Regions from separate parts of the Homo sapiens genome. Here regions 1 and 3 are each linked to region 2. The links come from fine-mapping of genetic effects on gene expression. A gene starts in region 2. Each other region holds a variant in brackets. All regions are shown on one strand. Distances are between the middles of the regions.

What was found. PIP is the estimated chance that this variant, and not a neighbour inherited with it, causes the effect.
Region 1: its variant is the best candidate, but not a certain one, in a credible set for the expression of NAP1L1 in blood mononuclear cells (TOPMed, PIP 0.89).
Region 3: its variant is the best candidate, but not a certain one, in a credible set for the expression of NAP1L1 in whole blood (TOPMed, PIP 0.60).

Annotation. Positions count from the first base shown.
Region 1 is chr12:76,148,442-76,158,963 of GRCh38, forward strand. No RefSeq gene overlaps it. Among named protein-coding and RNA genes, the nearest start is that of NAP1L1, 69 kb to the left of the region's middle. The variant G/A (reference allele first, on the strand shown) is at 5,902.
Region 2 is chr12:76,080,068-76,090,589 of GRCh38, forward strand. It overlaps NAP1L1 (nucleosome assembly protein 1 like 1), which reads right to left and starts at 4,618. Exons shown (of 15, transcript NM_004537.7): 1 at 4,500-4,618. LOC124902970 (a long non-coding RNA gene) reads left to right here and starts at 5,018. Exons shown (of 2, transcript XR_007063379.1): 1 at 5,018-5,100; 2 at 6,144-6,666. RefSeq lists silencers at 3,933-4,002, 4,053-4,112, 4,183-4,232, 4,373-4,452, 4,893-5,052 and an enhancer at 4,348-4,889.
Region 3 is chr12:76,443,785-76,454,306 of GRCh38, forward strand. It overlaps OSBPL8 (oxysterol binding protein like 8), which reads right to left. Exons shown (of 24, transcript NM_020841.5): 4 at 7,067-7,204. Among named protein-coding and RNA genes, the nearest start is that of BBS10, 100 kb to the left of the region's middle. The variant C/G (reference allele first, on the strand shown) is at 6,311.

The DNA.
Region 1 (10,522 bases), 68 kb after region 2:
GTCCTATTTTTTGTTTTGTTTTGCTTTTTGTCTTAGTCCATTTTATGGTGCTATAACAGAATACCACAGACTGGTTAATTTATAAACAATGGAAGTTTATTTGGCTTATATTTCTGGAGGCTTGGAAGTCCAAGAATGAGAGGCTGCATCTGGTGAGGGCCTTCTTGCTGCGTCATAACACGGTAACAGGTATCACATGGTGAGAGAGCATGTGAGAGCAAGCAAGAGAGGGCCAAACTTTTATAACAACCCACTTTTTATAGTCCACGTTTATAACAAACCCACTCTTAAAATAACAAACCCATTCCTGCGATAATGGCATTAATTTATTCATGGGGGCAGCATCCTCATGACCTAATAATCTCTTAAAGGTTCCATCTTTCAACGCTGATGTATTGGGGGTTAAGTTTCTAGCATATGAACTTTGGGGGACACATTCAAAGCTAGCAGCATCTTACCTTTGTATTTATTTTTACTTATGCTATTCTAGTAGGAAAATTTTTTTGTGTCTCTTCACATGAAGGATAAATATTTTTAGAGGCAGCTAAAAGAATTTTCTCCCCTTGAAGCACAGATTTCTTTCCTTTTTAACCTCTTTTTGCCTTCACTTTTCATATCTCCATGTATTCTCTCAAGACTCATATATTCAACGTGTGGTAAGAAGGATACCACTAAGAAAAGATAAACTGCATATAGTTATTATGGCTGACGGATCTATGTAATTATAGACTGTTAAGCACATTACAGTTGAGGAAAGCCACAGAATGTTGGTAGAACTCAAGACAGGAGAATATTGGTGTGTTTGGAATGTATATTATTTTATTCTGCGATGGCATAGCTCTCTGTGCATTTGTTAACAATTTCTTTTTTTAAGCCCAGTGGCAAGAAGAGCTTCTTGTTATATGGTCATAATGTTGAAAATTGTAATATATGCTGCAAGAATGCAACTCCAGTACTGTGGAAAGAATTCCTCTTTTGGAATTTACAGGAATCACAGTCGAAGAACAGAGAAAGGTGAATAAGGAAGCAAACTGAGCTGATATGATATTTCCTTCAGCTCAGGACTGGCCAACATCTTTATTTGGTACAAAGAACAGTGCCAGATGACAATCCTACAGAGGAATTTGAAAGAAAATCTCCAGCGGAGGGTGAGATTTGAAATGCAGAGTCAGTGAGCCAACTTCTGATAGTCCAGGCAGCCAGGTCAACTGCAATGCCTACAGGTGAGGTTGGGCTTCACTAATAACACCTAAACCATCAAAATCACCTGGAGGAGCATTTAAAAGGTGGACTCCTGGTTCTACTCCAGATGCATTGAATCCAAATGGGGATGAGGCAATAAGTCTGTGCCAAGCACTGTTCTAGGCACTTTTATTATTCTGGACACTATTATTATCATAGTCCCTATTATTTTATTAATTCAACCATTGCATTTGTCAGGTATTGGCCCCTTTTTACAGGTGAAGAAGCTGAGGCTCAGAGAGGTTGAGTAACTGGCATCGAGTCACAGAGCTGTGACTCCAACCAAAGTCTGCTTCTAGCGCCTTTGTAACCCTTGCACTCTGCCAGAACTGGAAATGAGGTAATGGAGACATACTCAAACTTATAGTTGTGTTATTTTTAAAATAATAAATATTATTATTTAGTGCCCAGAAACATGTATTCTTTTTCTGATGCCATTTATTGCACATGTAACCTTTTTAGAAATAAACTTTATTTTTAGAGCAGTTTTAGATTTTCAGAAAAATGCAAAAAATTGTACAGATAGCTAGGTCCCATACATACTGCACCCAGCTTCCCCATTGTTAACATCTAACATTAGTATATTTGTTACCATTAATGAATCAATATTATTTAGAGTCAGCAGAACTGTATGCAAGACTCAGGGTTATCTCTTATGGCTTGAGCGGTCTTGGAAAAGAAACATAATCTGTTGAATCTTAATTTACTCATCTCTAAAATATAAGTAATAATAATAAAGATTTTGGCCAGGTGTGGTGGCTCACACCTGTAACCCCAGCACTTTGGCAGGCCAAGGCGGGCGGATCTTTTGGGGTCAGGAGTTCGAGGCCTGCCTGTCCAACATGGTAAACCCTGTCTCTACCAGAAATACAAAAAATTAGCTGGATGTGGTGGCATGCACCTGTAATCCCAGCTACTGGGGAGGAGAATTGCTTGAACCGAGGAGGCCAAGGTTGCAATGAGCCGAGACTGTGCTGCTGCACTCCAGCCTGGGTGACAGAGTGAGACTCCACCTCAAATAATAATAATAATAATTTCACAGGGATATGTTGGTATATTTGAGGAGAGCCCCATACCCACACTCTTCCCTTGCCTACCTCCTGTAGAGGCTGAAGTAGCTCCATTAGGGTTCCTAAATCTGATAAAGAAAAATGTGGCTATCTGCAGGGAAGTGGTTTTATAATACCGAATTCCAACAAGAAACATATTGGCACGATGAGGCACACTGGCCAGACAATAACAGGGAGCACAGAGGAACAATGAGCATGTGCTTCAGCCAGAAACTTTCTAGAAGCAGCAGCAAGGAAGGAGTGGGGCTCCACATGGCCAGTGTCCTCTTCAAAGCTCATCAATCTGTTAGAGTCCCTCCCCTTTCCTAAGGAGAGGAGCTGGATGGGGGTCAGAGGCTGGGAGCTCAATGCTAATGGTGATTGGACACCCCTAGTAGTTAGATTTACACTTAGGAATTGACCTACATGTGTGCACTCAAATGAATGTGTCTGGTACAAGTATTCACCAGAAAGGTACTTGCTCCAAATAACTCCTTCTGCAACAGGTACTCATTTTTATTTTTCATCAAAGACTGCTATATTTGTTTCAGAAATAGTCCAGTTGCTAACAGTGAGTAGGCATTTGTGTAAGGTTGTAAAAAAGAAATGTTTTGAAATGAATCTCTATTATGACTACAGAAAAGACAATCAGATTAATTATGTTCATGGACAGCGTTTTACTGATAATGATTTCCAAAATTGGCTCATCAACAGAGTCACCTTTTTGAAAATAGAGACCTGGATGGGTGCGGTGGCACACCCCTGTAATCCTAGCACTTTGGGAGGCCGAGGCAGGTGTTCGAAACCAGCCTGACCAATATGGTGAAACCCTGTCTCTATTAAAATTAAAAAAAAAAAAATTAGCCAGGCATGGTGGCGGGCACCTATAATCCCAGCTACTCAGGAGGCTGAGGCAGGAGAATCGCTTGAACCTGGGAGGCAGAGGGAGGTTGGAGGTTGCAGTGAGCCGAGATTGCACCACTGCACTCCAGCTTGGGCAACAAGAGCGAAACTCTGTCTCAAAAAAAAAAAAGAAAAGAAAAAAAGGAAGAAAGAAAATAGAGTCCTATGTTCCACTTGGTCAGAATATCCATAAGTGAGGCTGAGGTCGCTAGAGAAATTTTTGAAAAGTGCCTTAGGAACGCTAGTAATCAGAGTTTGGGACTTATTGGTGCAGACTGTATAGAGGGACATTTAACACTGAAATTTGATTTTGGGTGAAAAAAGTAATTTTTTTCCCTAAAAACCATAGTCTTGAGTTATTAAAATGTACAAACAGATTTTATTTATTTTATAAGCTTTTCTGACTTTGAAAGTCTTTTCAAATCAGTAAAATATTTTAGTCTCAGCAAAACTATTATATTCTATACTTTGGCTATTAAGTATTAGCAGACAAGCTGCTGGAAAAGTTAAATCTTTAAAAAGTTTGCAATTTGTGCTGCAAATGCTAAACCTATGTTTTTATCTTCCCTATATATACCGATGTTTTTATCCTCCTTCCTGAGAAGGTATGCTGTTTGAACAGACAAAAATACAGATACTGCCTAGCCAACACTAAAAATAGGAACATGTCTGAAATTCACATACTCATATGCCTCCCTGCACTTCCTGTACCCACCTACTGCTTTCTCTAGTTTCTATCCCTGGCTGCGGAACCAGCCCATCCCTTTCCTAAAGAGGCTTCTCTGTTGCTACATATCAATGCAGAAACCATTGACGTGCTTCTGTGTCAGCAATAATGCTCTGTCTTTCCTACCTCATTCAAGGATCCCAGGATTCTTTTTGAACAAGAAAGAAAGGTTTATTAGTCCTCCCCACACTTCAATGCGGCAAGGAGTCAGTATTATTTTGAATGAGGCCCAGAATGAACTCAGCAGATTCATAGAACTGGTCAGAGTGGCAGGTGAATCAAAAGTTGAGTTACAGGCCAGGTGTGGTGGCTCATGCCTGTAATCCCAGCCCTTTGGGAGGCTGAGGTGGGAGGATTGCTTGAGTCCAGGAGTTAGAGACCAGCCTGGGCAACATAGTGAAAACTTGTCTCTGAAACAACAACAACAAAAATTAAAAAATTAGCTGAGCATGGTGGCACTTACCTGTAGTCTTAGCTACTCAGGAGGCTGAGGTGGGAGGATTGCTTGAGCCCAGGAGGTTGAAGCTGCAGTGAGCCATGCTCACACCACTGCAGAGTGAGATCCTGTCTCAAAAAATAAATAAATAAAAGTTGAGTTACAAATTTGTTTCTATTGGTTTTTTTTTTTTTTTAGACGGAGTTTCCCTCTTGTTGCCCAGGCTGGAGTGCAATGGCATGGTCTTGGCTCACCTCAACCTCCGCCTCCCGGGTTCAAGCAATTCTCCTGCCTCAGCCTCCCGAGTAGCTAGGATTACAGGCATGCACCACCATGCCCGGCTAATTGTATATTTTCATTAGAGATGGGGTTTCTCCATGTTGGTCAGGCTGGTCTCCAACTCCCGACCTCAGGTGATGTGCCCGCCTTGGCCTCCCAAAGTGCTGGGATTACAGGCATGAGCCACTGCACCTGGCCTCTATTGCTTCATTTATTTATTTATTTATTTTAATTCAAGAAGAAAAATCAGCCTTATGTCTGCCAGTTTCTATTCTATTTAGCAGATTTCTCTTTGCTTTGTTCTAAATATACATAATTACTTTTTCATTTTCATACTCATTCTGAGAAATCTGAATTAATAATTATTTACTGAGTGCAATATCAGCTAGCTATTGCTGCATAACAAATTTAGCTGGTTAAAACAGCAAGTACTTATTTCACTCATAATTCTGCAGGCTGGTTGTGTAGCTTTTCTCTAGGTTTGCTTTCCTGTTCTTTGCTGGGCTTGCTTATATTGTCTGTGGTCAGCTGGAGATTTGACTGGAAGCTGGATGGTCTAGGATGGCCTTGCTCACATGTCCGGCCGTTGGCAGGTTGTTGGTTAGGAGCTGGCTGGCAGGGACACTTCATACTTTCTCCTTTCATCTTTCAGCATGCCAGTTTGGGCTCCTCCACATGGAGATCTCAGGGTTCTAACCACAGCAAAAGAGAACAAGGCATAATGTGCAAGTCTCTGCTTGCTTCTTATTTGCTAGTCTCATTTTCTAAATCAAGTCACACAGCCAAGCCCAGACGCAAGGTATGGTGAAATAGAATCTACCTCTTGGTGGGAGGAGCTTCAAATTCACATTTTAAAGAGGTATGCTTACAGAGATGGGAAAAAATTATAGTCATTTTTGCAATTCACCACCAGTACATAGTTTGTATGAAGCTTAACATTTTAGAAATATAGACAAAGCATCCGCCATTGTGTGTGTGTATATATATAATATATATATAAATTTATATATATATATATATATGCACTTTTTTTTTTGAGACTGAGTCTCACTCTGTCACCAAGGCTGGAGGGCAGTGGTGTGATTTTGGCTCACTGCAACCTCCACTTCCCAGGTTCCAGCAATTCTCCTGCCTCAGCCTTCTAAGTAACTGGGATTACAGGCACTCACCACCGCGCCCAGTTAATTTTTGTATTTTTAGTAGAGACGGGTCTTCACCATATTGGCCAGGCTGGTCTCAAACTCCTGACCTCAAGTGATTCACCC[G/A]CCTCAGCCTCCCAAAGTGCTGGGATTGCAGGCATGCACCACCACGCCTGGCCTGGATTGTATATTTTATTTTAGCCTTACCTGCTGATTGAGTTGCAAATCAGGCAAGTCGAAAAAAAAAAATCCCATTCGACAACACAAATCCTACTTTTCTTTCATGATTTTAGTTTCAGATTACCTGTAGAACTTGATGCCACACAGAGCAGTTGCAGTTGGACCAAAGTGTGGTGATTATAGATGGGGTTGGGGTGAGGAAAGGCTGTCCATGGGCTGTGAGAGTAGGCTTCTCAAGTTTTAAGCTTCCATGATGTCACCATGGACTAAAAGCTTGCAGAAACAAAAGGAAAACAGCAAAAATGCTTTATTTTTCTATAAGAGCAAATAGATCTGGCCTCGCTGGGCAAAAAAACATGTATGCATAATTTAGTGAATGGGCATCTTTGGTGACTGATGGAAAAGGGATTTAGCTGAGACTCAATCCCTGGGTGAGAGACAGAGAGTAGTGAGTCAAAACCTCTAGAGAACGGTCACAAAGAGAGCTCATTCTCCATGTAATAATGTTTGAGAATCCTTCAGTGTGAGGAAGGTAGTAATTCTTTTTGATTTTTCTGAGACAGGGTCTATGTTGCCCAGGCTAATCTCAAACTCCTGGCCTCAAGGAATCCTCCTGCCTCACCCTCCTGAATCACTGGGACTACAGAAAGGTAGTAAGTCTACCACTGTGCCCAGAAAAGTAGTAAGTCTAATAAACCTAGACATTAATGCAGCATGACCCTGTTTTTTACTTTCCTCGTTTATAATGGGGGAGAATCTGGTTGTGCTAGGGATGTTTTCCCCCTACCTCGTCCCTTTCTCCTCACCCGTGAACAGGTTCTGTGGATCATGATTCTTAGATAATATTCCTCACTTTCCCAAATGGCCTGCTCATGGTTATCTCTTCCCATAAGGCAATGAAGTGAAAATAGACATTAGCTGTCAGCTGTCAATCATTTTTTATGAAGACCCCCAAGATGAGCACTGAAGAAATACTCCCCTTTCTGAAATACAGTAATATTCAGCTTTGCTTGGTATCTTCTGAGCCAAAACATGGCTTAAGTGATGAATAAGTAACAGGGTGTTGCCTGAATTTTCCATATGCCTCACATTTTGGAAAAGCCTAGGAGAAAGGAAATAACTGTTAAAACATAAACATTGAGAGGGAATTTATAGTAATGTGGTTCAGTGCCCTAAGCTTATAAAGGGGCCTTGGCCACTATTGATTCCAAGTGGAAAAGCAAGACCAAAAAGTTAGGCCCAGGACAAGGCATGGTGGCTCACTCCTGTAATCCCAGCACTTTGGGAGACCAAGGTGGGTGGATCACCTGAGGTCAGGAGATTGAGAGCAGCCTGGTCAACATAGCGAAACCCCATCTCTACTAAAAATACAAAAATTAGCTGGGCGTGGTGGCACATGCTTGTAATCCCAGCTTCTCGGGAGGCTGAGGCAGGAGAATCACATGAACCCGGGATGTGGAGGTTTCAGTGACTAGAGATCACGCCACTGCAATCCAGCCTGGGCAACAGAGCAAGACTCTGTCTCAAAAAAAAAAAAAAAAAAAAAAGTTAGGTCTTGGGCCCCTCGGCCCCTCCTCCACCAGAGCTCTCTTATCTGTTATCTGTTTTACACATTGGGATTTTGCAAAATGTTTCTTGTGATGAAAGTTTCCTAATGCTAAGACATCATTTTGTAGATGAGGAACTGGAGGCCCAGCAAAATGTGGTGACTTGCTCAAGGTCACAGCAGTTGTCATTTGTTGAGCTGAGGGCGGAACTCAAATCTCAATCTCTAGTCCAATGTACTTTGTTCTATAGCATGCCATGTTCCACTTCTTCATATCTAAGCTGGGCAACTTCCTTTTAGTAGATTCTCACTCACAAGATATTAAGGATATTGCCAAAATGTATAGCACAAATCAGAAGATGAAAACTGTCATTTCTTTTTTGAATGATTGCTACAATATGATCTGGGTTCTGGCTTAGAGTTCTTACTTTGCCTCTCACAAGCTGGGTGACATAATATTTTTCTGTTGCTCTTTCCTCCCTATAAAATGGAGACACTGAAGTTCAAGTGAGTTACTGCTCAGTTTTTTTGTAAGCAAGAAGATAATAAATATGGAACATTGCAGTGATGATTGATTTATTGCTTTAATTGTACACAAAAACCCCACTTAATATTCATGAATTGTAAAGGCCTTCACTGAAATGAGCACTTCTGGAAAAACTGAATATAATCATCAAAACAGTCACCATTTATCTGGTACATAGCTTGAGTTAATTAGACAATGATCAAAGGATTCATGTTCTGCCTGCAAACCACGCACTCAGAGGTGCAATGAGAATTAAGGAATGAGCCTTAAGAAGTCATTCAACCATTCCAAATCTTACAAAGCCTGCAGTACTAAAGGAGTACTAGAGAAGAATCCACTGGTTGTCTTTTAAGTGGTAAAGCAACACAAGCACCAAGAACTTCAGTTGGTCCTGAAATTCTCTGCTTCCATTTAAGAGCTGCTTCTAAATGTGGCAGCTCACCCACTGTCTAATTAAAATGCCTTCCCAGAACAGCTTCAAATCTGACAAGGGTGAATAGTTGCCAAATGGGCTTCTTTCTTTGCTGGATCTGTAGGTAATTTGCCTCCAGCTAACAAGAATTGGCACTAAACACCAAAAATGGGATAATGAAGGCCTTTGGACACTGGGTAAGGACTGTTCTATGATGCTCAAGTGTGGAATGAGCACTGTAGTGTGAGCCCAGATTATTCTGTCCATAAACTCGGCAACTGCATGTTGGGCAATTCTATGTTACAAGGTAGCCCGAATGTTACTCAGATGAACAGTACTCTAGTGTATGCAATGGTTTCTAGTTTATTTTGTGATGATGTACAACATCCGGTTTATGTTTCTATTTGTAGATCAAGAAGAAAAAATAACCATGGGGCAAAGGACTAGTGTTGGGAGATTTGTGTTCAGGTTCTGGCCCAGTTATTGATTCTCTTTTCTGGATTAAACTTTGGGCTCCTGTTTCCTTGTCTGTGAAATAAATGGTGGGAGACAAAGATAAATTAAGGATTTCTAAAGTATGTTTCCAGTTCCAACAGCTTCTTATTTTATAGCTAAAGGTAGTAAGAACCAACAACTTTCACTCTTTGGATTAAAGTGCTCTATGCATCAAATCCCAGTGGGTTTTAAAATTATACTGAATCTAGGCCAGGCACAGTGGCTCATGTTTGTAATCCCAGCACTTAAGGAGGCCGAAGTGAGAGAATTGGTTGAGGCCAGGAATTCGAGACAAGTCTGGGCAACAAAGTGAGATCCCATCTCTACAAAAAATTAAAAAATTAGCCAGACTGGTGGGCTCCCTTAGCCTCAGCTACTTGGGAGGCTGAGGTGGGAGATTGCTTGAACCTGAGAGGCGGAGGCTGCAGTGAGCCAAGATCACATCACTGCACTCCAGCCTGGGTGACAGAGCGAGACTCCACCACACACACACACACACACACACAAAATCAGCAAACTTTGAGTAAAGCAGATTCCCCCTCCATTCCCTCTATTATGTCAGTGGGCCTCATCCAATCAGTGGAAAGGCCTTAGTAGAAAAAGACTGCGGTCTCTCGAGGAAGAAGGGAATCTGCTGCTAGACTGCATTCGGACTCGCAACTGCAACAACTCTTTCCTAGGTCTCCAGCCTGTCAGCCTACCCTGCAGATTTTGGATTTTCTAGCCTCCACAATTGTGTGAGCCAATTTCTTAAAATAGATCTCTCTCCATCTCTTTCTCTCTCTCTCTCTCTTTCTCTCTCTCTATATATATAAAATATGAGGAACCTAATAAAAATATATTCTATATATAGTTAAGGAACTTGTTCATTAAATACATGTATTATATACTAGAGAGAGATTTATTTTAATGAATTGGCTCACACAATTATGGAGAAACCAACATGATGTGTGTGTGTGTGTGTATATTTATATATAGGTTTTAGGTTGTGTACTATATATATCATATATAGTATGTGTATATATATATAATGTGTATATATTATATATACTATGTTGTGTATACATACTCTATGTAATATATACCATATATATGTGTCATGTAAACATGGATTCTCTTTTTCTCCCAACACAACCTCAGGAGGTAGATATGAGGAAACTGTGGTTCACAGAGGTTAAGGAGCTTGTCCAAGTGTACATAGCTAGCAAGAGGTAGATGCAAAATTGTAAGAACCACGCTGTCTCCATAACGCATGTGAAGACTCTTAGTTTATGCCCAGAAGAGGGAAGCTGCTCAATATTAATTCTCTTCCGTTTTCCTCTTCCACTGCCTTTTGTCTGATTACTCAGCTGTTTCTGCTAATGTCAGAGCCAGTGAAAGCCACGAAGTGTCGTACCATTCAATTTATAGCTCTCGTGCCATCAGGAATCTGCTCCAAGGTGATTCATGCTGTGACATTCTAGCCAGAAACTGAATCTGAAAGCAGCAACTAACTGTTCCACCACAGGATCTTGGGTTGCCTCAGTTTTCACGCCTACTAGTGGTCAGTTATGGGAGTGTGGTGACCCACTGAACACAGCCGCAGTCT
Region 2 (10,522 bases):
TTGGATACATAGAGCTGACATAAGGCTAAGAAACCATTACCCAACTGCAGTCACATAACGTTTCAGTCAACACAGGACTGCATATACAACAGTGATCCCACAAGATTATAATGGAGCTGAAACATTCCTATTGCCTAGTAATGTCACAGCTCAATTCATTATTCATGTTTGTGGTGATGCTGGTATAAACAAACCTACTGCAGAGTCATATAAAAGTATGGCACTTACAATTATTTACAGTACATAATACTTGATAAGGACAATAAATGATTTATTGGTTTATGTATTTACTATACTATGCTTTTTGTGGTTAGAGTACACTCCAACTTATTTTTAAAAAAGTTAAAACTGCCTACAGTATTCAACATAGCAACATGCTATACAGGTTTGTAGCCTAGGAACAACAAACAGGCTATACCATATAACCCAGGTATGTACTAGGCCGTACCATCTAGGTTTGTGTAAATACATTCTATGACATTCACAAAAGGATGAAATGGCTTAATGATGCATTTCCCCCAGAACACATCCCCATCATTAACCATGCATGACTGTGTATGTAAACAAATTCTATGCTGGAAGAAGACTTCATGACCATAACTGCTATACAGCTTTTCCCTAGAGCACAGTGGGATACAAGGTGGAGTGCTTTTGAATTTCATGCTGCTATGGTTTGAGTATTTGTCCCCTCTAAAACTCAAGTTGAAATTTAATCCCCTATGTGGCAGCACTGAGAGATGGGGGTCTTTAAGAAGTGATTGGATCATGAGGGCTCCACCCTCACAAACGAATTAATCCATTCATGGATTAATGTATTTCTTTATAAATTACCCAGTTTCCCACCAGGGGAGCTGGAGAGCCAAGCTACCCAGTTAGCACACTCAGCCCCCTCCCCATGTGATACCCTGTACTGCCTTGGGAACCTTCAGAGTCTCCACAAGTAAGGTTCTCACCACATGGGTCCCCTCGATCTTGGATTTCTCAGCCTCTATAACTGCAAGAAATAAATTCTTTTTTTTTAAATAAATTACTCAGTTTCAGGTATTCTAAGCAACAGAAAATGAACTAATATTCATGCTGATTTATAGCAGAACAGTGTAAGTCAACATTCTTTCAAAACCAGGATAAAAATTATCTCATCATAAGTTATCACTGCTCACGTACGTAACCACGGACGGGTTATCTAACCACTCCACACCTATTTTTTTTCCTTGTTAAAATGTTGATGCTACCTGTCTCTAAGTAAATTAAATGAGCTAATAATACACACAGAATTTAAAACAATGCCTGAATAATCAATCAGTGTTGCCTATTACATTATTTATCCCTGTTATGCTCTTCTGTACCCTCTTTAGAAAATAATTCCAAGACTGAAATTATAACTCTAGACAGGTGTGGTGGCTCACACCCATACACTCAGCACTTTGGGAGGCCAAGGCAAAATCGCTTGAGGTGAGGCATTTAAGACCAGCCAGGGCAACACAGCAAGAGCCTGTCTCCACAAGGAAAAAATATATATAACCCTGTTTCCCAATAAAAATTAAAATGTACAAAACTTCTGAATAAGTAAAAATATATACAAATATGCAGGAAGTAAAAGGCAGAGTTGGTAACCAAAGGTATAGAAGCCATTTTCTATGGCAAGCCCACTAATGTACTCTAATGTTCTGTAGTCATTGTGCTAAACGACTTACATATGGATAGGTGTAAAGTAACAACTCTCTCCTTCTAACCCCTATTCTGCCCAAAAACTTATTTAGATGAAACTAGTTTGAAATGGAACTTAAAATCATCAAATTATAACAGGTTCCTTTGTGTAAACGCTGTATTACTCTTTGACCCCTTTACCCTTTCCTTCCTTTATAGCTCTCATCACAATTTAACATTCTACATCTAAGCAACCAATTTGCCTCTTTTGCTCATGACATAAGATACATGTCCATACAGGTGCTAGATAGTTACCCAAAGACTAAACTGAGAACACAATTACAGGTTTGATTAAACTTGAAGATCTGAATACACTGATCATTAATATTTTGATATTGATGAGTCATTCTCTCTAATCCTTTGTTTCAAATTTACAACCAAGAAGTGAATAAAATATTGTATTTTGACATCTTCAGACCTTTGAAGTCCAACAGATACTGCTTCTTTAGCCCCTTCTACAAAAAGACCCTTAGTTTTGAATATATTTTGAGAATTTAGAATCAACTCAGTTTTACCAGGAGCCAACAGGAGCAAGCTGAATAAAATGAGATGGCATTTTGGATTACATTAGTTATGGTACAGGTATTCGTTTCAAAAATCTCATTAAAGGCCAAGTGCAGTAATTTACCATATTCAGTATTAGCTTTATAATTCTGCAAATCAATGGGCCTAATATAAAAATAGGCACTTTGTAGCAGATAAAATTTAGAAAGATATTCAAATTGGTATAGTGAAAACTTTTAAATTTCTATTTACTAACATAATGTTGACTTGGAGAATCTATGAAAGTCAGGTTTTATGACAGAAGATGTCCAAGTCCACCTACCAGGGTTTAGTTCCATACATTCTCCAAAGGACAGTATTCTTAGAACTAAACTATAGATTTAGGCCATTTATTTAAACTTGGGCAACTTCAAACAAGCTTGAAACACAAGAGTGCCTTGAAAATAACTGTAAAAGTCATTTACTTCCCTTCGATTTTTAAATGGTACCCTATACATAAAAGGTTTTTCCCTTATTCAATCAAAGGTAATGTATATTACTTCCAAAGTATAGGAGTATTAATTTAAGCTGACCAAAAAAAGAGGACCCAGATACTCGTTTCCAAAGATGTTTTGAATCCACCTATTTTCAAAAGGCCAAATTTCATTTTACAGCTCTTGTGAAACCAGGCAAGCAGTGTAAATTTTAAAATGCAGCAGTGGGATATCTTCAAATGTAGCAGTGAGATTTTTAAAATGTAGTTGTTTCAAAACTGATCAGTGACCGTCTAAAATACGGGCTCCTTGAGGACATCCTGCGCCTGGTTCATCCTTTTTGCACTCTCAAAGTCTAGCCTTCCCAGATGGGACCTCAGTCCCAGCCCCCCTACACTGCCATCCCCCAGATCTTTAGGGCAGTAGGGTTCATTGACAAGGTTGCAGGCTACAAACTTGGCAAAGTTTATACTAACACCTCATTCCATCCCACCTCCCATCTTAAAAAGGAAACCGTTAAGTATCTTATTCTAGTGACTTCAATAAAGGAACTAATTTATAAGACAGCCAAGAACAATTAAAGTCATAAAGGGCCAAACATTTTATTTTCATCTAAGAACCGTTTGCAGGGGTGGTCCGATCTTTTGGCTTCCCTGGGCCACACTAGAACTGTCTTGGGCCACACGTAAAATACATTAACTAGCTGATGAGCTTTTTTTTCCAAAAAAAAAAAAAAAAAAAAAACCTCATGAATTTGTGTTGGGCCACATTTAAAGCCGTCCTGGGCCGCGGGTTGGACAAGCTTGGTTTAGGGGTTTAGATCGATCAGGATCAATACTCCCCAAATAAAAAACCCTGATCAAGACACCCATCTAACAGTACCTGGGAAACACAATAACAACCTTTTGCTAATAACAGTTAATATAAGCGCTATATACGCGTTAACTTTTTAAAATACTAGCAGTGGAGGCCCTTCCTTATCATCAGCTAACATCCACAATCTCTGGTACCAATAAAAAGATTAAGACCAAAGAGAAGCAGGGAAGAGTTTGAAACCCAGGGACAGGGCTTACTCGCTTACCCTTCCTTTTCACATTCCACCGTCTCTACAACTTTCAAAGTAAGCACAGACCGAGGGCAAGGGTCTCCAACCAGGCCCAGCCAGTGGCCATGAAGCCCATTACCACGTGTGGAGCGAAGCCGCCGGGGGTTTCCCCTCCCCGCGCGGCCGCCCCCAATGGGCGGAGAGCCCGGGAGCGTCGCAGCCTCCCCCGCCCCCTCCCCGCCTCGGGGACTCGTCCCTCCACAGCCCCTCCCTCCCGTCGGAATTCGCAGCCTCCGCCGTTCTTTTCATCTCCCAGCGGCCTCCCTCCTGGTATTATTTTTGAGGGAAAAGCAGGGGGGTGTCCAAGAGGCGGCCGGCTCTGCACTCGGCCCGGCCCGTACGCCGGGGGCCTCCCGGTCCTCGCGGCGCAGCCGAGTCTCAGGGCACCCGGGCGTCACCGCGGCCTCGCTCCGGTCCACGCGGAAAAGACGGTGGAGCTCAGAGAACCTTAGGCCTCCAGGCCGCGCCAACCCCTACGTCGCCTCAGCCGTCCCCGATAAAAGCGCTGGTCGGCCCCGGGGCCCCTCTCAGGCTCCGGGGTCCGGACTCCGCGGTCCTGTCCGACCTCACAGGACGACCCCGGAGGCCACGGGCGGCCAGCGGCCCCGACTCCCGGCTCCCAGTCCCTCCATCCCTCCGGCCCTCCCATCTGCGCAGGCCGCCCAGCCAACACCACGTTCCCCCTTCCCTTCCAGGCCCCCATCCGTTACCGGCGACTAGTATGGGGAGCCAGGCGGCCGGAGCTGCGCAGGCAGTGACTCAGGGCGGCAGCGGCAGCAGCAGCGGGAGGAGCAGGAGGCGGCGCCGCGAGCAGATGGCGCTAAAAAAGACCCAAGAGCCCGCCGCTCGCGCTCATATACAATTAGCGTCAGCACGTAGGGCCCTTTCGCCGCCCTCCTCCCGGCCTTGTAGTCTCCCAGCAACGCGAGCGAGAGGCGGGTCCAGGCCGGGTTGCCTAGCAACTGAACCGTCCTCCTTCCCCGGCGACCTCCATACCCCCACCGAGGACTCCTGCAGCCCCGAGGCCCAGGCGCCGCGCTTGGGCTCCTCTGGTTCCCGCCGGTGTCTAACCTCCTCTGTTAAGCACCCCACCATATCTTTTCTCCCTGCTGAGCCGGAAAGGAAATTTCAACCCCATCAGTTGTGGGGAAGGCCTGGCCCGCGTGCCCGGCGCCCGGCCCGCCCCGCCCCCTTCGGCGTTGTGCTGGGAACGCTCAGGGCTGGCGCCAGTCGCCTGGTCCCTCGCTCGCCGCAGCCTAGACGGCGGACGCTCCCTGTCAAGGCCTAATTCCTGCAACTCGCCGGCCCCCGGTAACCGTTTTCCTTCCCCGCCTAAGAAAAACAGTTTTTTCCTCTAGACCACTTCGGCGGCCTCTTCTGACAGTTTTGCTTCTCCTATGCCAGCGGGTCTCCGCGCCTTTAGGGGGTGCTCGTCATCCTTTGCCCCCCAACCCCCCGCCACATCCTCGTAACTGATGTACAGTCCGTCAGTTCGGCTTCAGTTCTTTTGACGGATGAAAATGGCATATTTGTGCATTCTCTGGATGCGTTATAATGAGGACACTCAGTACGTCCGTTGTTTCATCTTTCTGAAAAAGTAAATCACATTAAATCCTCAGGCTTGTAAAACCTCATAGCTAATTTTCAAGTGATGATGAATTGACTAATACTAACTCAAAAAGTTGTTCTCAGAGTATGGTCTGAGGGTCCCCAGACCCTTTCATGGGGAAGGTCAAAACTATTTCCATATTAATGTCAAGACTGCCTTTTGCATTCTCATTCTCTCACAAGTGTACAGTGGGGTTTTCCGGAGGCTACGTGACATGTGATAAGGAAACAGACTGAAAATAGAAGCAGATAGGAGAATCCAGTCATCTGCGGTTAAACCAGACGTTAAAGAGATTTGCAAAAACTCGATTTGGGGGCAAGGGGGAGTAGTTATTTTTCATATAAAAATTATTTTTTGTTAATATTTGATTGCTTTATTGTTTTTAAATGAAATACTCTTAAAATTTCTCACTTTTAATTTCTGATATAAATATCAGTATCAGTAATGCACATAAAAGTTCTTTGGGGTCCTCAACTTTTAAAGGAGTGTAAAGGAATCCTAAGACCACAAAGTTTGAGAACCTCTTCTCTAAATCTTGCATTTATTGAAACTTCAAACTGCCTAGAATCCCCTATTGTAATCCACACATTTAGCAACTTTATCTTCCGTTTTAGGGGATACAATGTTTTCCTTGGCCCTCCAGAACCTCATTGAAATTATTTGCCTTCCCACTCTATACTGCAGACGACTCTGTTTATTCATTCATTTTAGTTTTTCATATACAATTCCTTTGTTGTTCTCATAGCCTATTCCTGTACACCCTTCTCAACAATGATGTAATGATACAAGGAGCATAATAGCATCAATAATGGATCTTCAGGAAGAACCCACTATACATAAACAAGGTAGACCAGTGCTCAGTTTGAACATAAATTTGACACATTAATTTCAATAAGAACTTCAGGAATGTTGCATTTTAATCAAAGCTGTGCACGATGCAAGGTAATTAGCATATTAAAATGAACTAAATAACTTTCACTTTCTTTCCATAAATCTTTATGGTAGCAGAATTTCTGAGACAAAATTGAGAAGTTAGCTTTTGTGGTGGTTTTTATCCCACACCAGAGAGCCTCATCAATTTTCGGCACTTCGCTCATGAAGGCTCTGGATTTTTTAGGTTTCACCACCCCCCCACCAACCCCTATAACTTAGGTGTTATCATTACCAGTACATATGCTCTTTCCCCCTTTTCTCCAGCTTCCTCTTCTTTTTTCAGTGTATCCTAGCCAATCTAAGAAACTAAACAATAAAATATTTCTAATAATGCATGCCTTTGTAATATAGTCTTTTGAACCAGTTTGTAAATCTAAGTCTTTGCCATTAAAGTTCAGGGAAGGGCAGACATTTATGCATTCATTCAACAAATATTTATGTCAGGCACAACTTCGGACTCTGGAAATACAGCATTTAGTAAGAAAGACACGGTTCTTGATTTTATTGAAGTTATGGTCTAGTGAGGTGAGGCAAATGATTAGAGATAAAATAATTTTACTAATAAAATATTAGTAATAAAACAATTTCACTTATCAATAATAAATAATTGATAAGTGAATGCTATAAAGAAAATAAAATGAGAAAAGGGGTAGGAGGTGACTGACCTGAAGATACCTTTGAGCTTTTTTTTTTTTTTTTTTTCGACGGAGTCTCACTCTGTTGCCCAGGCTGGAGTGCAGTGGCGCGATCTCGGCTCACTGCAACTTCTGCCTCCCGGTTTCAAGCAATTGTCCTGCCTCAGCCTCCCGATTAGCTGTGACTACAGGCAGGCGCAACCACGCCCAGCTAGTTTTTTTGTGTTTTTAGTAGAGATGGGGTTTCACCATGCTGGTCAGTCTGGTCTCGAGCTCCTGACCTCAAATGATCCGCCTGCCTCAGCCTCCCAAAGTGCCGGGGTTACAGGTGTGAGCCTCTGCATCCGGCCACCTTTGAGCTTTTTACATTGGCCCCTCTTATACCCCCAAATCACACAATGTAGTTAACTCATCTAACTTAATTGCAATAAATGGTGACCCTGGTCACTGATCTTGGGCCATGCGAAATTTTCTGTTGCAGTTCCTTTTCTCATGCTCTCTTTGGAAGCATATATACTAAAATTAAAGGTCCTTTTTTCTCTATCTCCCATGATTTTCATTTGGTAGACTTTTATAGCATTGTAGCCTGGAGGCTTAGAGGGGTGGCTTTGGAGTCAAACAGCCTATTTTGTCCCCATTTTTCTACCACTTAATAGCTGTGTAACTTTGGATAAGTCAGTTAGCCATCCCAGGTTTCATTTTCCACATCTGTAAAATGGGGAAAATAAGCATGCATTTTTCATAGGGCTGTTGTGAAACTTAAAAAAATTTTTTTTTTTTTAAGTCAAGAGGGATCTTGGTATATTACCCAGGCTGGTCTTGAACTCCTGGACTCAAGAGATCCTCCCACTTCAGCCTCCCAAAGTGTTGGGATTACAGGCATGAGCCACCTTGCCCAGCTGTGAAACTTTTGGAGACAGAGTCTCACTCTGTCACCCAGGCTGAGGTGCAGTGGCGCAATCTCGGCTTACTGCAACCTCTGCCTCCCATGTTCAAACAATTCTTGTGCCTCAGCCTCCCAAGTAGCTGAGACTGCAGGTGCGCGCCACCACATCCCACTAATTTTTTTGTATTTTAGTAGAGATGGGGTTGCACAATGCCCAGGCTGGTCTCAAACTCTTGAGCTCAGACAATCCACCCGCCTCGGCCTCCCAAAGTGCTAGGATTACAGGTGTAAGCCACTGTGCCTGGCTCAGCTGTGAAACTTTAAATAACACATTTAAGTTGCTTAACATAATGCCTGACATATATAGTGACCGCTCAATAAAAGGTAACCATTTTTAACCTCTTACTGAAGTTTTGTTTTTATTTTTGTTTTATTTAAAGGTTTAAGGAACTACCCCGAAGTCTTCTGATAGTGTCTGACACTTTTTGTGACATATTTTATTAAAAGCTATCTAGTCACAGCTTTTAAAAGACATTTTCCTGAGCTGAAATAATCCACACCAATTACCACAAAAATATTATAGTCAACATTTCTCAATATTGGATAAGAACTATGAAGATCAACAAGAAATTTGATGACAAAGATGGTATTTTACCTGTGCTTGTGTCTGTGTTTCAGCCCCTATGTAGTAGAAAAAAAAGCATAGGCTTTAACATCAGACAGGTATAGGCTCCTTCAACACTGTGACCTTGCAAAAGTACTTATCCACTCTGATCTTCAAGCTTCCCTATCTGAAAAATGCATTAATAATTATAATAAAATCTGTGTCTTTATTAGCATGAAATAGAGAAATGTATGTAAGTTCCCAGAGCAATGACTTGCCCTTTAAGTACTCAGTATTTATTTTCTTCCCTCTGAATTAATCTGTAGGTAAAACATCCAAGGGAACTAATAATAATTATCATCTAAAAACTGCACAAGATACATTTAAATAACAGTTACGTTAGTTTCAGATCTGGATTTTTTTTCTACTTTTCCCCAAATTAATTTATAGCTGCAATGTAATCAAATTCCAAGTGGAAAATTATGGATAAGATGCCTTACATTTTTCTCTCTACATTCAAAAAAAAGGATTAATAGTTTTTTTGTTTAAAAAAAAAATCTTTTTTTTTTTTGAGACGTAGTTTTGCTCTTGCTGACCAGGCTGGAGTGCAATGGTGCGATCTCGGCTCACTGCAACCTCTACCTCTGGGGTTCAAGCGATTCTCCTGCCTCAGCCTCCCAAGTAGTAGCTGGGATTACAGGCATGCACCACCACGCCTGGCTAATTTTGTATTTTTAGTAGAGACGGGGTTTCTCCACGTTGGTCAGGCTAGTCTCAAACTCCCGACCTCAGGTGATCCGCCCTCCTTGGCCTCCCAAAGTGCTGGGATTATAGGAGTGAGCCATTGTGCCTGGCTTTTTTTTTTTTTTTTTTTTTGAGACAAGGTCTCACTCTGTCACCCAGGCTGGAGTGCAGTGGTACAACTACAGCTTGACCTCCCTGGCTCAAGTAATCCTCCCACTTCAGCCTCCCATGTAGCTGGGACTACAGATGTACACCTCCGTGCCTGGCTAATTTTTTTATTTTGGGGATCTCACTATGTTGCCCAGGCTGGTCTCCAACTCCTGTGCTCAAGAGGTCCTCCCACCTCAGCCTCCCAAAATGCTGGGATTACAGGCATGAGCCACTATGCTTGCCTTGTTTAAGAATATTTTTATTTTCCTGTCATTACTTAACTGAATTTTTTATTGAAATGATTATAGATTCACATGAAGTTTTGAGCAATAACACAGAGAGATCCATGAAAACTTTCCCCAGTTTACCATAATGGTAACAATCCATGATCTTATTCAGATTTTCCCAGTCTCACTTGGATCCATTTGTGTGTTTATGGATTTAGTTCTATACAATATTACCATTTGTGGCTTTGTGTATCTGTCACCAAGAAGATACAGATCAGCTATATCGCCCAAGGATCCCTTATGTTGCCCTTTCATTCATTTATTTTTAAATTTTAATTCTTTTTTTTCCTGGACAGGATTATTGCAGTGTATGTTGACCTTTTATTATGGTCAGGGTTTTTTGTTTTTTTGTTTTTTTATATGCCAAATAATGTTCTACATTCCTAGATTTTATTTTATTTTGTTTCTCACACATAGACCACTTAGGTAGAAAATATGCCATTGTTAGGCTGGGCGCGGTGGCTCACGCCTGTAATCCCAGCACTTTGGGAGGCCGAGGCACGTGGATCACCTGTGGTTGGGAATTCAAGACCAGCCTGACCAACATGGAGAAACCCTGTCTCTACTAAAAATACAAAATTAGCCGGGCATGGTGGTACACGCCTGTAATCCCAGCTACTCGGGAAGCTGAGGCAGGAGAATTGCTTGAACCTGGGAGGCGGAGGTTGCGGTGAGCCAAGATCGTGCCATTGCACTCCAGCCTGGGCAACAACAGCGAAACTCCATCACAAAAAAAAAAGAAAATATGCCATTGTTTTGTGCGGGCCTTCAATATTTCTTACCTAAACCATTTGCAATAGCCTCACAGTTGGTCTCCCTAATACCAATCTCTTATTCCACTTCAATCTACCAAAGTTATTGCTCTAAAATATAAGTCTAATCAAG
Region 3 (10,522 bases), 360 kb after region 2:
GCATGAGACACTGCACCCGGCCCTTACATATCTGTCTTTCTTAATAAACAATTGAAATATGTTCGGCTCAAATAAATCAAAACAAATACCATCCTCTTTAAGAGACTATAATTTTACTTAAGGTAAAATTATTTTAAAGTAAACTGATACTAAGCCTTTGAATAAGGAACACAATCTGGAAAATACATAATTTCTTGAATAATCTAATTCACCAAAATCTAAACATATAACAAACAAAAATGTATTTTGATGTGTGTGGGGTAAGGAGAGTCAGTCTCCCCAGCTCTTAAAAAAAATCCTAAAACAATAGAACAAAACCAGAGTGCAAAAAACTTTAGAACAGCTTTTAAAGAATGATGAGCTACATTAAGTTGGTATGAGTCAATATACATAACAGAGATTCAGCCAGAAACATGAATGAGAATAGATGAAATTCTTAAATTGATGGTAAGCAATCATTCATTTATTATGAATGTAATTTAAGGCATTTAACTCTCTTTACAACACTGCTTGAAGAAATCAAACATACCTATTATAATAACAATATAAAGCAGCATATTGTGAAATCCCCAAAGCAGTGATATAAGAATTTTGAAAACTGAGATAACAGTATCACCTAAGAAAGCCTTACAAAAGAGAACAGATTTAAACTACACCTTCTAGAATGAGAAGTATTTGGATAAGCAAGTAGAAAGGAGAAGCATATTCCACTATAGAAGACCAGCACAAATAAAAGTACAGTCTCACTGGGAAACAGTGAAGAAAGCTATCTAGCTGGGTCCACGATGATGAGAAACACAAGATGAAACTGGAAGAGTACAGTAAAATCAGACATACTAAGAACCTTGACTACCAAAGATATGGAAGCCTAAATTTATGCTCTCAATTGCTGGTTTCCACTTGCTGGTCCAGAAGTTGCTACATCAGACACACTTGGAGAGCTTTATAAACACATTATGTTACTGAGCCTCACCCTTAGAGATTCTGAAAGAGTGGAGTGAAATCTATATCTAAGCAAAGCTTCCAGGTGACTCAGATATAGCCAGATGTAGGTGCTACTGCTCTAAGCAACAGTAAGCCACTGCCTTTTTGAGAATGAGAGGGACATAAATGTAGCCATCTCATTAGTTTTTTTATAGTTAAAAGCTTTAATAATAAAAAGTGGTACTTTCACTTAAAATTTTATATTTCTCTTTTATTCATATTATTTCCCTCAGAGATCTACTTCATAGGATCCATGTGTTCTCTGGTAATACACACCTATAAGAACCCTGAACCCATCATAATCTCACCAAAGTATGTAAAAAATAATTTTCTGTTTGGTTGTTTTGTTAAGAAAGATGAACTGGTATGTTGGAGGGCAAGGTTCTAATAGCAGTTAGGAGGCTGTGGTACTACTCAGTAATGCAGGCATAAAATGATAGAGATCTAACCAAGATGGTAAAAGTAAGAATAAAAATCAAGAGATAAATCAGAGCCTTGACACTTTATAACTTCTAAAAGAAAACACAGAAAGTATCCTTTGCAACTTTAGAGTAGGCAAAACTTTCTTTAATAGGAAAAAAGTTTGAATCATAGGAAAAACTGATAAATTGGGCATCAATGAAATTAAAAACATCTGCTCTTAGAAAGAAAGCATTAAGAAAATAAGAAAGCATGCCAAGACTGGAAGAAAGTACTCTCAATACACATGGCTATCAAAATGATATTAAAATGTATTAAAGAACCTTTAAAACATAATAATACAAACAAGACAATTTTCAAATGGGCAAACATATGAAATGATACTTTGCAAAAAGAAGATGTAAAAGATGGCCAATGAGCATATGAGATGCTCAAACATCATCAGTAATGAGGGAAATGTAAACTGAAACCACAATATACCACTAAACACCTACTGGAATGACTAAAATAAAAAAGATCAAGGATGTAGAGCCACTGGACAGCTCACACACTGCCTAAGAGGAATGTAAGAACGGTCCAACTACTTTGGAAAATGGCTTGGCCATTTCTTATAAAGTGAAACAAACACTCACCACATGATTCAGCAATTGCACTCCTAGGTACTACCCCCCAAAAAATATATCTCCAAAGCATTGTATACATAATGGAATTCTATCAAAATACTCGACTCAAAGTTTGAAAAATTTGAACCTCCAAAAATATGACAAAATTGACTGGAACTTAAAAAGTCTGAGTTTAAGTTCAAATTTTAGCTCTACTACATACTATGTAGACTTGTAAACCTTACCAACTGCTCAGTTTCCTCATTTGTAAAATGGGGGGAATAATGATTTATATACCATAAAGTCCTCGTAAGAATTCCATGAGCTAAGGCATATAAAAGCCCTCAGAGACATGAGGACCTTTAAATGTTATGCACTATATTATCAATAAGCTTTTGGAACTCTAATTCTTTCCATTCAGAAGCTAAAATGCTGATCATGAGTACTTGAGATAAGGCAGATACATCAGAGGTTTTCTGGACATTGGTTTATCTCCTCCAGCAGTTAATCTTCACCATGACCAAAAGCTAACAGATAATCTTATTTCAAACAAACCTCCTACACATGAAAACTGTGATATGGAATTTCAGTGGATAAACCAGAGGAAGGTATTTTGCTTTACAAAAAGCCAATGACTTTTAAAGAAGTACATCTACTATGTAATTTACTCTAAAAATATTAATTTATTCATAAACTTACCTAGGAACATTTAAGTGCAAATAAAGATATGACTAACACCGTGGCTGCTTTAAATTAGAGGGTTATATATGGGCCATCCATACTAAAAGAAGTTCTAAATGAGCCTCTAAAAGATACTGAAGTATAGCAAAGCCTAAAATGTCAGCCTTCAACCCAAATGGAATCATTTTTTATTTAAAATACTGATGACAGTAATGATAATAATATTATTATATCAGCGATCATGTGTGGTTATCATCTACCAGGTGCTAGGCTTTATATACATATTAATTCATTTTAAACCTTAATAAAATCCTATGTGCTAAATACTATTATCTTCACTTTACCAATGACTGAAACACAATGAATATATTAAAATCCATGAGTTCCTCATGATATTAAAAAAACTTAAAAGGCAAAAAGAATTTGTCACCACTGGAAGTAGACTTCACATTACGCCTTCAATCAAAAAATTAATACTTTGCAGTAAACAAATACCCACACAGCCTACCTTTTCTGTAGGAACTAACTATATTTCACATTTACCAAGTAACCCTAAGTGATGATCTTGTCTTTAAAGATTTCATTAACACATATAACAAGAATGACAGAATTATAAAATCACTATTTTTCAACTCCTAATATTGTAACTGATTCAGTTAATGATCATCAAAGGATTCAAACATCTTTCAGTAAAAAGTTGATGGGGGACACGATTTTTGCAAGGTGCCAAATATATCATCTTTATCTTCACTTTCAAGTCATAAAGAATGAAAAGACGCAACTTTCAATGAAGAGAATCAGGCTATCCTCACCTAAATCTACCAATCTTGTATCACTAGCAGCAGGACAATCAGATATTAAGTGAATTCTTATGTGATGCAGCATGAAGTACTACACACTCCCTACAAAGTATTCTTGCCAAAAATGCTCTAGCTAGATATAATCGAGCCTTTGCATTTAACTTCTAGTTTACAGAAAATATAGAAGATACAGAAACAAATTAAGTAATACCGCAAAGATGTAATCAAACAATCTAAAAAAGTCAAACACTCTACAGGACACTGGCCTAGATCCATTTTTTTTTTTCCTGAGATGGAGTTTCACTCTTATTGCCCAGGCTGGAGTGCAATGGCGCGATCTCGGCTCACTGCAACCTCTGCCTCCCAGGTTCAAGTGATTCCCCTGCCTCAGCCTCTCAAATAGCTAGGATTACAGGTGCCCGCCACCAAGCCTGGCTAATTTTTTTGTATTTTTAAGTAGAGATGGGGTTTCACCATGTTGGCCAGGCTGGTCTCGAACTCCTGACCTCAGGTAATCCACCCGCCTTGGCCTCCCAAAGTGCTGGGATTACAGGCATGAGCCACTGCACCCGGTCAGCCAAGTTTCTTAAAACCGTCAAAGACACAAAAGAAAACAAAAGTAAACAAGGAGACTCTTTAGGATTAAGGACGTAATGACATAACCAAATAAGATGTATGGACTTTATTTGGTTTCAGCAAGCCTACTGTAGAAAGATTTGGGGAAAACTAGGCAAAATTTAAATATAGACTAGGTGTTAGGTTATGTTAAGCAATTATCATCAGTTTTGTTAGATGTAATAAAGGTTTTATGGTTACATAAGAAAATGTGCTCATTTTTTAGAGACACATTAAGTATTTTGGGGTACGTCATGAAGTCTGTAATTTACTCTAAATATTCACGCTGTACCCTAAATAAATGAAACAAACAAAACAAAAGGTTAATAACTCCTTACATCTATACAATGGGTATATTAGTGTTCACTGTACTCTTTTTTTAACTTCCCTGTTTGCCTGAAAACATTCATAATAAATATAAACAAGTGTAGTTTTAATTATTAGTAACTAACCCTTTTGTTGGTTCATTAACTCCTAAGTTAAAGAATTCCTCTAAATATTCTAGTGCACAGATACATGCATCAGAGAAACCATATCTATTATAGCCAAAATTCTGATGCACAGTGCAAAAAAAAACCAGGTCAGTTGCATTGTTTCAGAATTTTATCTTAATGAAGCTTATTTATACCAGAGTGTGTATCATATATCGTTTTTCAGGTCTTCCAAAAAGCATTTTGGCAACAAAAATGCTAACTTTTCAAAAATACAATCGACAACTAAGCAATATATGTTATAGTAATTATTTTCATCTTGTTACATAAATTTTTATAGTTCCTACCATGCTATATGAAAGTGTTTCCATCTAATATATGACTAGATAAACATTTTCTATTGAAATAAAGTAGAGGATGGGTGCGGTGGCTCACGCCTGTAATCCCAGCACTTTGGGAGGCCAAGGTGGGCGGATCACAAGGTCAAGAGATCAAGACCATCCTGGCCAACACGGTGAAATCCCGTCTCTACTAAAAACACAAAAATTAGCTGGGCATGGTGGCATGCGCCTGTAATTCCAGCTACTCAGGAGGCTGAGGCAGGAGAATCGCTTGAACCCGGGAGATGGAGGTTGCAGTGAGCTGAGATCGCGCCACTGCACTCTAGCCTGGCGACAGAGCAAGACTCTGTCTCAAAAAATAAAGAAAGAAAGTAGAAAATGATCATGTAACTTACTATTTACAAGGTAGTACTCATTTGAAAAGTTACTAAAGCCAAATTTCAAAAGATAATTCATAAAGTTACAACATCAAAACTGACTAATTACAAAGTATGACAGAACTCTAAATTTAATTTTTAAAAATACTCAATAACCTAAGTATACATTAACTTTCAAAACACCAAATTTCATTTCTCAGTTTTAAAAGCAGAAGTCCTTCCACCACAGCTATGAGTAGTACCACAGGAGATTTCCGTACATTTGATTAAATAAACTTCAGCTGAGGAGCAGAATCCATTATACAAAACTTATCAATTATGAATTAGAAACTGTGATCCCTGAACTTCTGGGAGTACCCAAAGACCCTTCTAGAGGATCTGCAAGGTGAAAACTAGTTTCATAATACTTTTTCATTATGTTGCCATTTTCATTGATGGCACAAAAGCAATCTTGGGTAAAACTGCTGGCAACTTAGCATAAATCAAGGCAGAGGCACCAAACTGGAGTAGTAGGCACTGAATTCTTCAGTCATGCACTCACAGAAGAATGACAGTTTCACTTACAGATGTCCTTGATGAAGAAGTAAAAATTATTGCTCTTGAACCTTTAGTACGTAAGATTTTAATATTCTGTGCAACAGAATGAGAAGCATACATAAAGCCCTTCTCTGTACTATATTTTTTAATGTGTCAACACTTGGAAGATCTGCATAATTCAGTGAGCAAATATTTTCCAAATGACTAATGCATGATGTTACAAAATCATGCATGAGTAAAGAGCCATTCAAAATTCAAGAGTGAATTTTAACAGAGTATGAAAAGTGTACTGACAGCGTTTCAGATTCCAGATTGCAATTAACATAAAGAAAATTACTACTAGTCAAGTTTTGGCATATTATCAAAGAATATCTATAATTATGTATAAACCCCCCCCATATATATATATGCATGAGACCAGATTTTATTCATATACTTCAATCGGATCATCACATCACAACAGACTGCAGAAGCAGATACAAAAATGCAGGTGTCTTTTAAGCTAGACATTAAAGTGATTTG[C/G]AAAAACCGCCAAAAAGCAGTTCTTAATCATGGATGGTTTTGTCCCTCAAGGGATACTTGGCAACATCTGGAAACATTTCTGGTTGTCACAACTGGGGTAACTGCTATTGACATTTTCTGGGTAGAGGCCAGGGATACTGCTAAACATCATATAATGCATAGGACAGCCCTCCACAACAAAGAACTTTCCAGGCCAAAACAGTGCCAAGGTTGAGAAGTCCTGAAAATAGTTCGAAGGTTGAGAAGTCCTGGGATAAACCATTACCAACCTTCTCAATCAACTTTTTGGGGAGTAGAGGGAAAGAAAACACTGTAGTTCTTAATAAAAATGTTACTTACATTAACATGTAATGGGTTTATTACTTTAAATGAATTAAATTTTTAAATTTCTAGTTTTAATTTATAATATAATAAAATAGATATAACTCACATAAACAAAAGCACTTCACAGTCTTCAATAATTTTTAAGACTACAAAGGAACCATGAGACCACAAAGTGTGAGAATCGCCAAATTAGATGAATGATATAACTAACGAAGTATGTTGGAGAATATTAAAAAAAATTAAAAGTCTAAAGGAAAGTGTACTCATTTCAAGAGTATTATAGATGACCTAAACAAAACAAACAAAACCCCTTACAAAACCAAATAGTTAAAAAGAAAAAAAATATGATAGTCCCCAAATGTCATTCTCCCCTTCTCCCCTCCAAAAACAAAAACAAAAACAAGACAAAACATGAAAACCACAACTTCCTACCCTGGCTATGAGGACTTGCTGGACTAAGAGATGGCTGATGCAAATCTTTGGTTGGCGTTGGATAAGCTTCTTTTCCTTGGCGCTGACTCATCTTTCCTGGTGTCAGAAGCTGAGATTCGTCACTGTTTGCTACAACAGCTCAAGGAAAGAAGGGAAAAATAATTAGTACTGAAGTCACAGATTTACATAATAGTATAGTTAATAACATGGAATAAGATCAAAACTGAAATGGCCTTGGTGGTTATATTCATTTTACCAACTCAATACTTTAATAAATTCTCACAGTCATCTTGTTTTCATGTTGGTTTGTTACTGATCCAAGAAGAACTGACAGGTATGTTTGAGTCAAATATACAAATTATAGACATTATAATAATGAAAATACATATCCAACTGATAATGAAAGGCCTAAGGTTTACTGTGTGCCTTTCATTGTGCTATTTATTCTTTATATTTACCAACAAAATAAGCCAAAGCCAGTCATTTCCCAAAAAAAAAAATACAAATCGTCGATAAACATATAAAGATACTCAGCCTCATTAGTAATCAGAAAAACTACAAATTACTAGCAGTATAAAATAATATTTGACATTCGCTAGAATTTCTACTCTAATTTCTAATTTTCACGAAAAGTCGGTATGATAACTGTTTTAGAGAGGAGGAAACTTGAGGGTCAGAGATTGCCTTGCCTGAGGCTAAACAGTAATAGAGGCAAGATTCTAACTCAGAACCATTTGGTTCCAAAGTCTGTCTCTTAAAGCTTGCTGCCCCAATAAACAATTTAAGTAGTGCTTTGTAGTTGCTTCTCACCCATTTGGCCATCCTACTATCTATCGCTCAGTAATAGCGAGCCATGCCCAGTTTCAGAGAGCAGAAACAAAGTGAAAACACTCAATGAAGAAACAGGGCAAACTGCCAAGTCCAAAGTACCTGAGGATCTCCACATTCTTTCATTTTATATTCCTGTGCTTTCAGCCTATAAAAACTCGAGTTTCATCTTAAGAAAGGACGATTTACTAGCACTTTGGGAAGTCGAGGTAGGTGGATCACCTGAGGCCAGGAGTTCGAGACCATCCTGGCCAACGTGGCGAAACCCCGTCTCTACTAAAAATACAAAAATTAGGCAGACGTGTTGGCGCGCCTGTAATCCCAACTACTAGGGAGGCTGAGGCAGGAGAATCGCTTGAACCTGGGGGGCAGAGGTTGCAGTGAGCAGAGATCATGCCATTGCACTCCAGCCTGGGCAACAAGAGCGAAACTCCACCTCAAAAAAAAAAGACGGTTTAGTCTCCACCATAGGTTTTATTTTTCAATACAGACATTCAGAATTTCACATTCACCTTTTTATCATCATGTCCTTTAAATCTAATTGGTTTAAAATGTTTTCTGTTGCGATAGTTTTCAAAATTTTATTTCAGCTCCTTAGATTCCAAAGTAAAAATACAAAAACACTTGCACTTTTCATCCAAAATATAAAAAATTATTTTTCCAAGTCAATTAAAAAAATGTATAGACTGATGACTCCCAACTTCCTATCTCCCCCTAAACTCAAACTTACATACCCAACTGCCTGCCTTATAATCACCTCTTAATTATTTACAGGCATCTCAAATTTATCTAGAATGTAATTTTTGATTCTGCTCATCCTTCAAACCTGCCTCTCCCCAAACTCAGTTCATGCCATCACTACTCCCCTCCCACTACTTTCTCAGGCCAAAACCTTAGATGTGTTTTTATTTTTCTCTTTCTCTTACTGAGCAATCTTTTAAAATCATAAATTAGATTTCCAGTATGCAGAAATATCCTCACTGGCTTCCCATTACATTTACAATATAATCCATAACCTGGAAATTCAACACAGTCTGGCCTGCTACTTGTTCCAACCTCATTCTCTACTACTCTCCTGTCACTCACTTGGCTCCTGCCGTAATAGTCTTCTTGGTATTTCCTCAAGAAAGGCCATCTTTTGCCCAGTCACAGGGCTTTTATCTCTTGCTCTTTCTACCTGGAATATTCCTACCCCAGATCATCACATTATTAGCTCCTCTCCTTTGTTGTCTGGGCTCAAAGGTCATCTCTTCAGAAAAGCCCTTTGGTTTCTTCATGGTACTTTTGATACGTTCTTAATTTCAACATGGCACAATTTGGCATTTTTTTTTTTTTAGGGTTAGTACCCACCACTTCACAGTTATACTATTATCACTTTACCTTACATGATTTTCATTGTAGCTCCTATCATTATCTGAAAAATATAGTTTATTGCTTTTCTTCCTCCATTAGACATTAAATTCCATGAGAGAAGGAAGTTTTGTCTGCCTTATTTTCCCATAAATTCTCAGGTCCTGGTAAACTTCCTGCCCTATTGAAGGTGTCGCATCCTACCATACTAAAGATGTTCAATAAATTTATGTTGAATGAGTCAATAAACCAACTTTATATTTTTATAAAACATCATAAAGTATATGGTGTCTCTTTCAGTTACTAAATCCAAGATTCATTTGATTCCTAAAAATAATTTTAAATGTATGGTACTGATGCAGAGAGATAAATTGACCTAAAGAACATAGCAGATAGCTTTCAGAAACAGACACATACATACATGGAGCTCAGATATACAACAGAAATAGGGAGAATAAATTACTCAGTTAACAATATGAGGTTATCAACTGGTCATCAATATTGGAAAAGTAGAGAGAACTCTACTTCTTACCACACACAAAGAATAGTTCTATGAAGACTACAGACATAATGTAAAAAAGCAAAACTGGAAAATCTTTAGAATAAGAGAATATCTTCATAAACTTGGGACAGAGATTCCTTTAAAAAGACACAAAAAAGCACTAACCCAAAAATTAAAAAATCAGTAAGTTCAATATTAAAAGTATAAATTTATTTAAAGGTATCATAAACTGAAAAGGCACAAAATAAGATATTTGCAACACCCATAATTAACAAAAGGTTGGTACCTAGAATGTTCTTAAAAAAAAACTTCAATAAATCATTAGAAAAAGAACATCATAATAGCAAAATAGGGCAAAGACTTGAACAGTGATTCACAAAAGAAAAATGCAAATGGGCAATAAATGTATGAAAAGATGTTCATCCTTTTTTAGTAATGAGGCAAATACAAATCAAAATAATAAATATTTTATACTCAGTAAAATTAACAAAAATTAATGTCTGATAATACCAAATACTGATGAGGATGGGATCATCGAGATGTCTTAAGCACTGTTAATGGAGTATAAGTTGATACAAGCACTTTGGAAAACAATGTGAGCTTCTTATATAAAACTGAATACCCTGTGGGTCCAACAATTCCACTCTTGGATCTAGAAAAACTTTTACAGGTATATACCAAGAGACAAGAATAAGAATGTTCATAGCAACACTGTTCATAATAGCAAAAACCAAACAACATATTCATCAATTGAAAAATGAATTTTAATAAATTCT